Linked DNA regions of Homo sapiens: region 1 is linked to region 2. The links come from fine-mapping of genetic effects on gene expression. A gene starts in region 2. The other region holds a variant in brackets. All regions are shown on one strand. Distances are from middle to middle.

Region 1 (5,364 bases), 48 kb before region 2:
CTGAGGGATTCCCCATCTGTGTAGACTGCTGTAAATGCGGACAAAGCGTCCCTGCTCTGGGAGACCAGGCAGAGCTGTGGCTGCTCCCACGACAGGGATGCCTCACCCAGACAACAGCTGAGGACATGTGAAGACGGCCAGGGTCTCCCGAGAGCAGCAAGGATGAGGGTGGGAAAGAAAGAAAAGGCACCTGAGGACTAAGGGGGCAGGGCCCAGGGGAGGACGGGCAGTGGGAGCCAAGGGCTGCCCATGTGGCCCCGCACCTGGCTGATGAAGCCGACAACCTGGCCCCGGAGCCAGGAGGGGTCAAGGGTGCGCAGGTCCCGCCCATCCAGCATCACCACGCCTGCCGTGGGGTCGTAGAAGCGCTCCAGCAGGGAAGCCACGGTGGTCTTTCCTGGGGAATTGGGTTGAGAGGGAGGGAGGCCAGGGATTCTAGGGATTGTCCCAGGAAAGAAGGCCCCTTGTGGCAGTGGAGGAAGGGACCCCACCGGGGGCTCACTGCTCCCGGCCTTGCTCTGAGTGGCTGCTAGAGAAGAGTCAGAGGGTGAAGAGGTGGTGGGCTCCCCTTACCTCCGCCAGACTGGCCCACGAGGGCCACGATCTTGCCAGGGGGCAGCGTCAGGGTGAAGTCTTTCAGCACCTCGAAGCCGGGGCGGCAGGGGTAGCTGGGAGGAGCCGAGAGACCCCCAGTCAGACCAGGCTCCCAGCCCTTGTTGCCCGGGTCCCTCCTGAAGTCTCCCTGTAGCCCTCTGAGAGGGCCTGTTTATGGGGGACATTAGTCCAGACCTCCACCCCCGAATCCACTCGCCTCATCCCCGGCCCAGGGACCCATCCCCACGCCTGCTCACCCGTGCTGACCTGAAGCAGACGTTCTGAAATGTAACGGAGCCACGCAGCTGCTCTTTGGGGACGCAGCAGCCCCCAGACAGTGGGATGCAGGGGTTCAGGGCCATGTACTCAAAGACCCGGGCACCTGCACTCAGCCCCCGGACCACCTGTGGGAGGGGATCCAAAGTCCGCAGGGAGGCAGGAGTAGGGGTGACAACAGCATCTCCAGGGAGTGGCCATGGCTCTGGGCTGGGGTCTCCCCAGCTCCTCTGCCCGCCCACACCCAGTCAATAGGCAGCTCCCACAGCGGCACACACGGCACAAACTCCACACCCCAGGCCCTCCACCCTACCGGCCACTCACCTGCCCAAACAGGACAGAGAGGTTGGCCATGGACCTGTCAGAAAAAGGAGAGAGGGGTGGAATAGATGGGAACAAGAAGAGCCAGAGGAGGGGAAGGAAGCCACGGTGGGGCGGGGGAGCAAGGAAGCAGGTGGCCTGTGGCCAAATGCAGAGACTGCTCCTGCACCATGGGGGCGTAGAGCCCTGGGACGTAGCAACACCAGATCGCTGAGCCCTGGCTCCCTCCTTGGCCAGATGAGGATGACAGCTGTCCCTCAGCTCAGCCCAAGCCCCTGGGAGGGGGTGCTCCACGAGGAAATGGAAGTGAAGGCACAGGCCTCTGTGGGTGTCCTCCAGTGCCCTGGCCTGTGGTCTGCAGGGTGAGGCCTGTGCACACATGCAGCGGTGATATCAGCCCACGAGGAAGGGAGCCCAGCTGACCCACGGACTCCCTGCTCGGCCCTGAGGATGCGGAGGCCGCCACCATGAACAGAGATCAAGGGTGCGTGGCTTAGAAGGGGAGAGCAGATCTAATGCTGCAGACTCTTGGGGAAGCAATGACTTTGGCAGACATTTAGGTGGAAGAAGTGATGTTAAATCTTTTTGGAGAAAGAAGAAAACAGAAGACACTGGGCCACAGGGGAACTCTCAGGAGACCCCAAAACAAAATTCCCTGAAAAAAATTTTTCTCATGAGCTTGCCCTGCAGATAAGTATACCCACAGTGTTATCTGTCTAGACAGTGGGTGGCCTCCTTCGTCCCGGCAGGGCCGGGGTAGGGCTGGCCGGCTGCCAGGAGGCTGAGGAGGAAGGTGAGTCACTGGTCCCTGACTGGCCTGGCTGACCTGTGACAGTGTGTGTATGCCTGGTCCCCTCCTAAGTAAGAGGAAAGACTGACTCCCCAGCAACCCTTCAGCTGCAGACTCACTTCTTCCAGCACTAGGGTGGGGGTGAGTGGGAGGAGCCTCGAAACCCAAAAGGAAAAGGTCCCAGTGGACTCAGTGCAGTCAGCACTTGCTAAAGGCAGC[C/T]GGGGGAGGCACCAGGCAGGAAGGAGCCAGCCCAGCCAGCTATCTGTTGATGAGCAGGGGCACATTCTCCACCAGAGATCTGGAAGACATTAGGGCCTGGCAAAGGGGCTGGGCAGCAACTGAAATTCAAAATGCACATGACTCATTGGAGTGTGATGACCCTGCTCTCAGGGGCCGTGGGCTGTAGGCTACGGGCCTGTTCCCAGGTGGAGCCTGGCCCTGATTCTGATGAGGCGGCTGGGCCCCACTTGCTGTCTGTCTGGGCACCTCCCCATCTCCATCAGGAGTACTCAGGATGGGCTCATAGGTTAGGCTGCCTGAGGTAGGCCGGGCCATCCTGCTCCCCTCTCTCTGCTAGACCCCAGTGCCAATGCATGGGCCCTTGGCTTAGCTGGCAGGACCCTGTGGGAAACACATCAGCTGCTTTATGCAACAAATCCAAACCCCCAAGATGAGTGGGGAAGAATCTCCACATAGGCAGCGCTAGAAGGACCTCCAAGAGGATGGGTCTAGGGCCTGTGGCTGTGGGAGCAGCCAGCGAAACAGCACAGACAAGCCCCTGGGGGTTCTTGTGTGTGTCATAAAGCTGCTGGATGGCCAAGCAGTACGGTGGGAGGTAAAGTCAGAGTCTCAGGCCCTAAAGGGGAAGTGGGGGTCCCGAAGCGGGAGGGTTGGGGCTGGACAGTGCAGCCACCCTCCCCACAGGGAGACTGTCCCACCACTGCCCACCACAGAGGGCTAAGGGGTGATTTTATTAAGGGAGCCACTGGGCTTCTTTTTTTTTTTTTGAGACGGAGTCTTGCTGTTGCCAGGCTGGGGTGCAGTGGCGCAATCTCAGGTCACTGCAACCTCTGCCTACCAGGTTCAAGCGATTCTCTTGCCTCAGCCTCCCGAGTAGCTGGGACTACCACCATGCCCAGCTAATTTTTGTATTTTTAGTAGAGACGGGGTTTCACCATGTTGGCCAGGATGGTCTCGATCTCTTAACTTCACGATCCACCCACCTCGGCCTCCCAAAGTGCTGGGATTACAGGTGTGCGCCACCGCACCCAGCCGCCACTGGGCTTCTTATGGGCCCTCAGGACTAAAACGACCGTCCCATTCAGAGAGGCCAAAACTCTGGTCAAGGGAAGTGGGTCAGCGCTGAGCAGGGCAGGCAGTGGTGGAGGCAGCCCCCCAAGACCCCATCTCTATCACAGTGAGAGCATCTGAACTCCAAAGCCACGACAGAACAGCTCCCAGCCCCCCAAGACCCCATCTCTATCACAGTGAGAGCATCTGAATTCCAAAGCCACGACAGAACAGCTCCTTGGGCTGGAGGAGGGCGAGGCTGCCAAGGAGGCCTGAGCCCGGGACCAGAAAGGGTCTGAAGGTGCTCAGATTAGGGAGCACGAGCAGAAACGGGGCACGCGAGGGTGTCCATGCAGCTGCGGAAATGGGAGGAACGTCTCTGTGGAATGTCAGGTTTGGGGCTGAAAATGGGAGCCTGTCTCCGTCCGCCTCCCGCTTCCTGGGACAGTACACCCTGCAGTGAGGGGTTCTGATCCGGCGGACACACACGCAGGGGTGCACCATGCAGCAGGGCGAGGACACATGCCTCAGTAGAATGGGGTGGGGGCCCCGGTGGAAGAGCAGGGGGGTCGTGGGGGGAGGGATGGGGTGGCAGAGGTGATGCACGGTTCGTGGAGACGGGTCTTCACCCTTTGATGATCTGTTACAGCATATTTACTATCTCATTATTTACCATAACATATTTATGTAGAACTGCTTGTGTTTAGCTTGGAAAGAGATAGGAGGGGGGAGGCCCGCCTTGAGCTGTCTGGTGATCAGCTCTGGTCATCCCAGAGGCTCAGCTGAGCGGGTGGTTTTGGACCAACGCAAAGCAATAAGCTATAAGGGTGGGGTGTGTGGGGACAGGGGTCAGCTTGTCATCCCTGGAAGTGGCAGGCATGGGGAAGGGCAGCTCACACAGCCTGTCAAGGATGGTCCTTCCATGCATGGAATGTCACAGCCTGCAGCGGAAGGGAATTCGGACAGGGTGCAACACGGAGGAAGCTGAGGACACAATGTGGAGTGACAAAACGCAGTCACAAAAGGACATAGTCTGACTCCACTTAGAGGACGTCCCTAGAGTTGTCAAATCATAAGGACAGAAAGTGGAATGGTGGGTGCCAGGGGCTGGGGGAGGGCAAATGGGGATTCCCATGTCATGGGGATAGTTTCCGCTCTGCCAGGTAAGAGTTCTGGAGGCGGACGGTGACAACAGCCGCACAGCAATGTGAGTGCACCCACTGCCCATGAGCTGCACACTTCAAAATGGTTAAAATGCTGTATTTTATGTTTTGTGTACTTTACCACAGTTGAAACAAATTTTTAAAAAGCCTGTCAAGGAAACTTCTGGGTCCTTTGGAAGGCTGAAGATGACAAGCACCTGCCTGCTGCAGCGCCACTGCCCCAGCCAGGAGGGTTGTTATGGGCCCTGAGGGGCTCTCTCTCCCCACCCTATGCATCCCTGGGGAAGCTGGGCAGGCCTGGAGCTGCACAGCAGTCGGCCCCCAGAGAAGGCTGGCACCCGTGTCCCCTAACCCAGCAGGGCTCTGGAGGGCGGCAGGGGGCTCTGTAGCAATGGGAACGGCCCCCACTTACCTTTGCACTGTCTGGGAGGCCACCAGGAAGGACATGAGGTCTCCCCCTGTCAGCTGCTGTCCGGCCACAAGGGAGCCCCCAATAAATAGGGTACCCAAGACCATGCCTGCAGGAGAGGGGAAGTGAGGGAGGACGAAGCCAGGGCAGAGGAAACAGCCCTGGGCCTGCTCTGCCACTGCTGACTGGGAGAGTCAGGTGAGGCGCATGACTGGTCCCAGCGTTGGCTTCCTCCTCGGAAGAGCAAGTTGGGGTGGGCACGCCTCCATGGCCTCCTTGAGGGTGGCCCTGTAGCGTTCCACATGGAGTCCCATAGCTGGGTTGGGACATCGGCACCCTCCCTTTACCTGCAAGAGTTAGCAGCTGGCCCGAGGCGAATGCAGGCAGCCAGCAGATGAAGGGAGGGCCTTTGCCTGCCTTGGCTGCTCCCAGCTCCTCCCCAGCCCACAAGCGCCCCTCCAGCCCCCAAATGGCTCACTCACAGTTGAAGGCGATGTTGGAAAGCCCTTGGAACAAGGCGA
Region 2 (5,364 bases):
AAGTGGGAGCCCAGGTGTCCAGCAGAGCCCTGGGGCTGCAGCATGGGGGCTGGGGCATTGGGGAGTGGCAGGGTAGAGCCACCAGGGGGTCATAAAGGTCCTTCTGTGATGTGGCACCAGACGGAAGGGCCTTCGGCCTCACCCCTGTGTGCCTTTCCCTGGAGGGTTGGGCAGAAGGTGAGCACCGTTTCTGTAGCAGGGGATGGCAGCCCACACTCTCAGTGACCACAGGGACCTCTAGGGTCATGCAGGTTCTCTCCTTCACCTCCCCCCATACATACAAGAACTCCTGGATCCCCACCCTTGAGTCCTTTTGGGTTCTTGGGGATAGAGGCCCAGCAAGGATGTAGTGACTTTTTGTCCTTGAGTCTGACATTAGGGTATCCCTTCCCCTCCCAGCCCCAATTTCCTGGAACCCCCACACCCCCATGACTCAAGTGGGGGACACAAAAGAGCAGGAAGCTGCCTTCCAGTGCCTCCACCCCCACCCTGTCATTCAGTGACGCACGCTTCCCGGGGCCGCAGGTCAGCAGAGAGACTAGGGCTGAGGCAGGGTCAGCCGGCCAGGGAAGAGCTTGATGCCCTGGTGGGAGCATGGGGGACTAGGGAAACTACAGTTCCCAGAATGCAGGTGGGGTACACCAGCACTCTCCAGGCACTTCAGGCCAGAGTGCATGCTGGGGTTTGTAGTTCTGTGCCATCTGAGGGGCTGGAGAAAGGCCACTAGCTGGGCATCTGGTCCACAGGGGTCGAAGCCTCGTGATTTCGAGACCTCAGAGACTGAGAGAAAGTTTAAGAAAGAAACGGAAGCTGAGAGACTGGGAGAGGCAGAGACTAGGAGCAGCAGACAGACAGACAAACAAACAAGAGGATTTGTGTTGGCCAGACTCCTCTGAAAAGCAGTGGAGGATAAGGTTGGGGTGGGCCTGGGTGGGGGGCCGGCAGGCGGAAGGAACGGGCTGTGCTCAGAGCTCTGGGGTCACACCAAGAAGGTGGGGTCTGCCAGTTTTGGAGGATGGAGGGTGAAGGGGCCTCATAAGCTGCTCCTGGACACTAGTGTGCCCTGCTGCCCCTGTCTCAGGAGGAGGGAGATGGAAGGGCGGCATTCAGCCTGGGCTTTGTCCCATGACCCCAAGCCTGAGGCCCCACCACACCCCACCACCTCGCCTTCCCAGTGAGGCAGGGGATGGGATCCAGCCCCTACTTTTCAGGCATCTTCTACCATGCTGGAGGAGACAACAGATCCCAAGTCTGGCTTCCATATTAAGCCACCATTTGAAATGTGCATGACCAAGGATGACTCATTTTCCTAGGTCCCAGTTAATGGAGCTGTGACTGGCATCCTCAGGGTCAAGGTGACAGGCAGCATCAGATGCTGACATCCTTCTGTCTTTTTTTTTTTTTTAGACAGAGTCTTGCTCTGTCACCCAGGCTGGAGTGCAGTGGTGTGATCTTGGTTCATTGCAACCTCTGCCTCCCGGAGTGATTCTCATGCCTCAGCCTCCCGAGGACGACAGGCACCCACCACCACGCCTGGCTAATTTTTTTTTTTTTTTGAGACAGAGTCTCGCTTTTGTTGTCCAGGCTGGAATGCAATGGTGCTATCTCAGCTCACTGTAACCTCCGCCTCCTGGGTTCAAGCGATTCTCCTGACCCAGCCTCCTGAGTAGCTGAGATTACAGGTACCCACCACCACGCCCGGCTAATTTTTATAATTTTATTAGAGACAGGGTTTCACCATGTTGACCAGGCTGGTCTCGAACTCCTGACCTCAGGTGATCCACCTGCCTCGACCTCCCAATGGGCTGGGATTCCAGGTGTGAGCCACCATGGATGGCCATTGTCTTCTTGCCTGCACCACTGGCTGTGGCCCGTCCCTGTGGCCACCTGACCCCTCCCAGGCCTTCCAGTCCCATCTGGGCTCCACACTCTGCTAGATTCTTCTGGAAAGCAGGGCTTACCTTACGCTTTGGCACTACCCAAAACCCTCAGCCAAGAACAAAGCCACTCCAGCACATTGGCCTGGCCCTCATTTTCCTTGGTGCACTGCTTGAATCCTCTGTTCTAGACAAATGGGCTTTCTCGTGTCTCCCTAATGGTCCTGTGCTTCCCTGCCCCTGGGCCGCTGCTGTGCTGTTCCCTCCACCTCTCCCTTCCGCCTCTGACAAATGAAAATCTTTTTCTTCCTTGAGGCCCAGCCTGGGCAGCTCTGGAGGTGCACCACCCAGGCCTCCCTCTTAGAGAGCAGGTACCTGCTGCAGAAGGTGCTGGTGGCTGACAGCTTCCAGATGCCAGCCTTCAGTCCAAGGCCATGTGCTTCCCTGGAGTCTTGTGTAGGATATAATAAATTCCTCTTCTAAGGTTTTAGCCTGTAAATTAAGTACAATGAGTTCTGAGATCCTCTCCAAAGATCCAATGCATCAGTATGTTCAGCTTTGTTCTTCATCTTAAAGTTTAACTTTCATGTTCTCTTCGTCTCCTTGCCCCTAGTTTCAGTAAACAACCCCCTCCTAGCTTCTATCACCTGCTCCGAACTGAGTCACCACTGGTCACCTGCTCTGACCTGAGTCATCCTGAGTCACCTGTTCTGTGACCGTCCTTCCTGCCAAACTACTTACCCTGCCAATCCGGCTCTTACCCCTGCTCTCTTTAAAATAGCCAGTAACAATTAGCTCAGACGGTGTGGTCCAACCCTAGCCAATAGGGGAACAACACAGCTGTAGGGGCTACCTGCCTTAGGGATAAAAACCCCTTCCCTTCCCTTGTTCAGGTGTGCTCTTGCCATTGCTCCATCTGTGAGATGCACCCTTCTATAGAAGTAAAATTGCCTTGCTGGGAACATTTATATCTGAGTGCTATTTCTTTTGTGGCACCGAAAATTTATTTCTAACACTTAGACAGTAACTGAGCCCCGGGGCGTCTGTGGGCGTAACATCCCCCGCTGGGCTGATGTGAGGCCCTTCTTCTTCTTCCCTCCTCTGCAGGTGTGAGCCTGGCATTGTGGGCCTGATCCTTCCCCTGCCCAACTCACTCCTGCTCCCGGTCCCTGTTATCTTTCTCAGGCATTGCCCGCAGTATTCCTCTTATGCTTCCAACTCCTGGGACTCTGCTTCCTGAAGGACCCAACCAACACAGTCGCAGGATGACTCCTCTGTGAGGTCTTCCTTACGTCCCCTTCTCCATGATCTCTGGGTGGCTGTCACCCTGTCCCCAAGGCCCCGGGGACAGCTCTTTCTCTGGGCCCTCCTGGTCGTGGTTTTTGGGCAGCTTGCTCTGTAAGTGTGGGTTCTCACTTAAATGAACCTGTGTGCTCTGAACCTGTGTGCTCTGGAAGACACAGGTCAGTTCCTCTCTGTGGGGATCCTCTGCTGGGTTGAGCTCCTGCACTGAGTGGGATTGCTTCATACATTGGCTTGTTTTGTTGCAAATGTGTGCAGCCGCCTGGGGACTGGAAGCTGTGCTCTGGAGGCAATGGAGAGGGTCCACTGAGAAGGGAATTGGCTGAGGCTAGATGGGTCTGTGTGGGCAGAAAGAAGTCAGTCTAGGTGAAGGGGAGGAGTGCAAGAAGGAGCACTCTGTGGCCACAGGGAGGATGGGTTACAGTTCAGTACAGCCAGCACTGAAGGCTGAGGGTCACAGGGAGGATGGGGTCCAGTTCAGTACAGTCAGCGCTGAAAGCTGAGGGTCAGAGTAGGCCTGGATTGGGTTTGAATTGGGGCAGAGGATGCCATGGCAGGGTCTTAAGAAAAGGAGGAAAAAAAAAAGTTAAACAGACAGAAAAAGTCAGAGATGAATGCTCTCTGGACAGGGGATTCCCTGCTTCCCCTTTCTTGGGCCGTGGCCAGTGTTGTCCGGAGTGTCCTGCCTTCCATCAGGGTGCTCTGATGAGAACAGTTGATTCCCCCGCCTGTCGGAGGAGGCCTGCCGTCCCCAGGGCTCTGCCTGGTGCTGGCCTGCTCTATGCCTGCAGCCCTGCCAAGAATGATGCCCATGCATCTTAGTGGCTGACTGCTCATATTGGTAACCATGTTTTAAAGAGGACTTTCCGAAAAAACAGTTTTCAAGGTTGGAGATTTGGTGTTCGGCTGAAAGAATTTCCATCTTCAATCATGAGATCTGAAGCTGAATGGGCTTTGGAGATGATCTGGTTGGGAACTGAGCCCCCTTGTCCCTGACAGTGGCTGTGTTTCCGCCTCGGGGAGGGCTGGCCCAGACCCCAGGGGTAAGGTGACAGCCTTCTGTGGGTGAGTAGGGATCCCTCCCTGGGGAGGGCTGTGCCCTGTGCCCCCTGCCCCCTCCATAATGCCAAAGAGGCGGCAAATCTTGCCCCTGCCTTCCCTCTCAGACCAGAGTGCTCTGCAGGGCTGGGCGGGGGACGCCTTGACCTTGGAGGGCTGTGCTGGGAAGGGAAGGCCTTGGGCCTGGGGTGTGTGCATGGGGGCCTGGGTGGTGAGGGCAGGGGTGACTGAGCGGAAGTCCCTGACTCTTTATAGCCCAGCCCGGGGCTGTTCAGTGTGAGCTGGAAGTACCCCACCCTTGCACTATGAGCAGCTTCCTTCCTGCCTGCTGGCAAGGACGGGTGGGGAGCGGGGAAAGGAGGGAAGGGAGGCGGGAGCAGCGGGAGAGGGGCGGGGAGCAGCTGCCGCCAGGCCTCCCCCTCCCGAGGATGTAACTCATGCTGAGTGCTGGGGGGCGGAGAGATTTGCTCAGCTTCCAGATTGCAGAATTGGTGCTGAGCCTTTGGTGAGGGCGTTGGGGCGGCTTCTGGGATGCTGAGGGTTCCGGGCTGTGGACGCGGTTGCCGGTCTGAAGGGGCTCCTGTGTTGATCCTGGGCGCCCCCTGGTAGCCCCAGCCCTTCTTGAGACAGCCACATGAGGGCAGCAGAGAGCCGAGGAGGAGCGATTTCAGCACAATCGTGGGATCAGACACCACGAAGGGAGGGGGAGACCCAGGGGATAGGAAAGGAGCCAACGGCATCGGGTGGTAGGTCTACACCAGCCATCTGGGGTCCCAAGGTGGCTCATTTGGGCCCACCCCCAGAGGAGCAGATTGGGACAAATCTGCGCCTCCCTGCTTCCTGCACAGACCACATGGGGTGTGTCAAACCGAAGGCTCAGGAGGTATCTTCACATACACACGTACACGCACACACATACATCCATGCATGCATGCACACTTTCTTACACATATATCCATGCATGCATGCACACACATACACATATATACATGCATGCATGCACAGTCACACACACATACATCCATGCATACTCTCTTACACACACAAATGTTTCGGGGAACGTTTGATTTCCCCACAAATTCATAAGTTGAGATCCTAGCCCCCAAGGTGATGGTGTTAGGAGGCG

Alleles and levels. Positions count from the first base shown, and alleles are read on the strand shown. Sizes are in standard deviations (SD) of each study's normalised expression.
With allele C in place of T in region 1, the expression in esophagus mucosa of the gene that starts at base 2,536 in region 2 is lower (small effect, 0.21 SD a copy in GTEx).

The links. PIP is the estimated chance that this variant, and not a neighbour inherited with it, causes the effect. A credible set is the group of variants that fine-mapping cannot tell apart.
Region 1: its variant is the best candidate, but not a certain one, in a credible set for the expression of NOS3 in esophagus mucosa (GTEx, PIP 0.63).

What each region holds. Positions count from the first base shown.
Region 1 is chr7:151,036,132-151,041,495 of GRCh38, reverse strand. It overlaps ABCB8 (ATP binding cassette subfamily B member 8), which reads right to left. Exons shown (of 16, transcript NM_007188.5): 8 at 5,326-5,364; 9 at 4,847-4,952; 10 at 1,195-1,228; 11 at 862-998; 12 at 574-668; 13 at 264-397. Among named protein-coding and RNA genes, the nearest start is that of ASIC3, 9.7 kb to the left of the region's middle. RefSeq lists enhancers at 800-1,583, 1,584-2,368. The variant C/T (reference allele first, on the strand shown) is at 2,201.
Region 2 is chr7:150,988,189-150,993,552 of GRCh38, reverse strand. It overlaps NOS3 (nitric oxide synthase 3), which reads right to left and starts at 2,536. Exons shown (of 27, transcript NM_000603.5): 1 at 2,253-2,536. RefSeq lists cis regulatory regions at 281-287, 1,294-1,314, a silencer at 547-577, promoters at 1-807, 1-1,374, 2,316-3,184 and enhancers at 4,455-4,614, 5,121-5,161.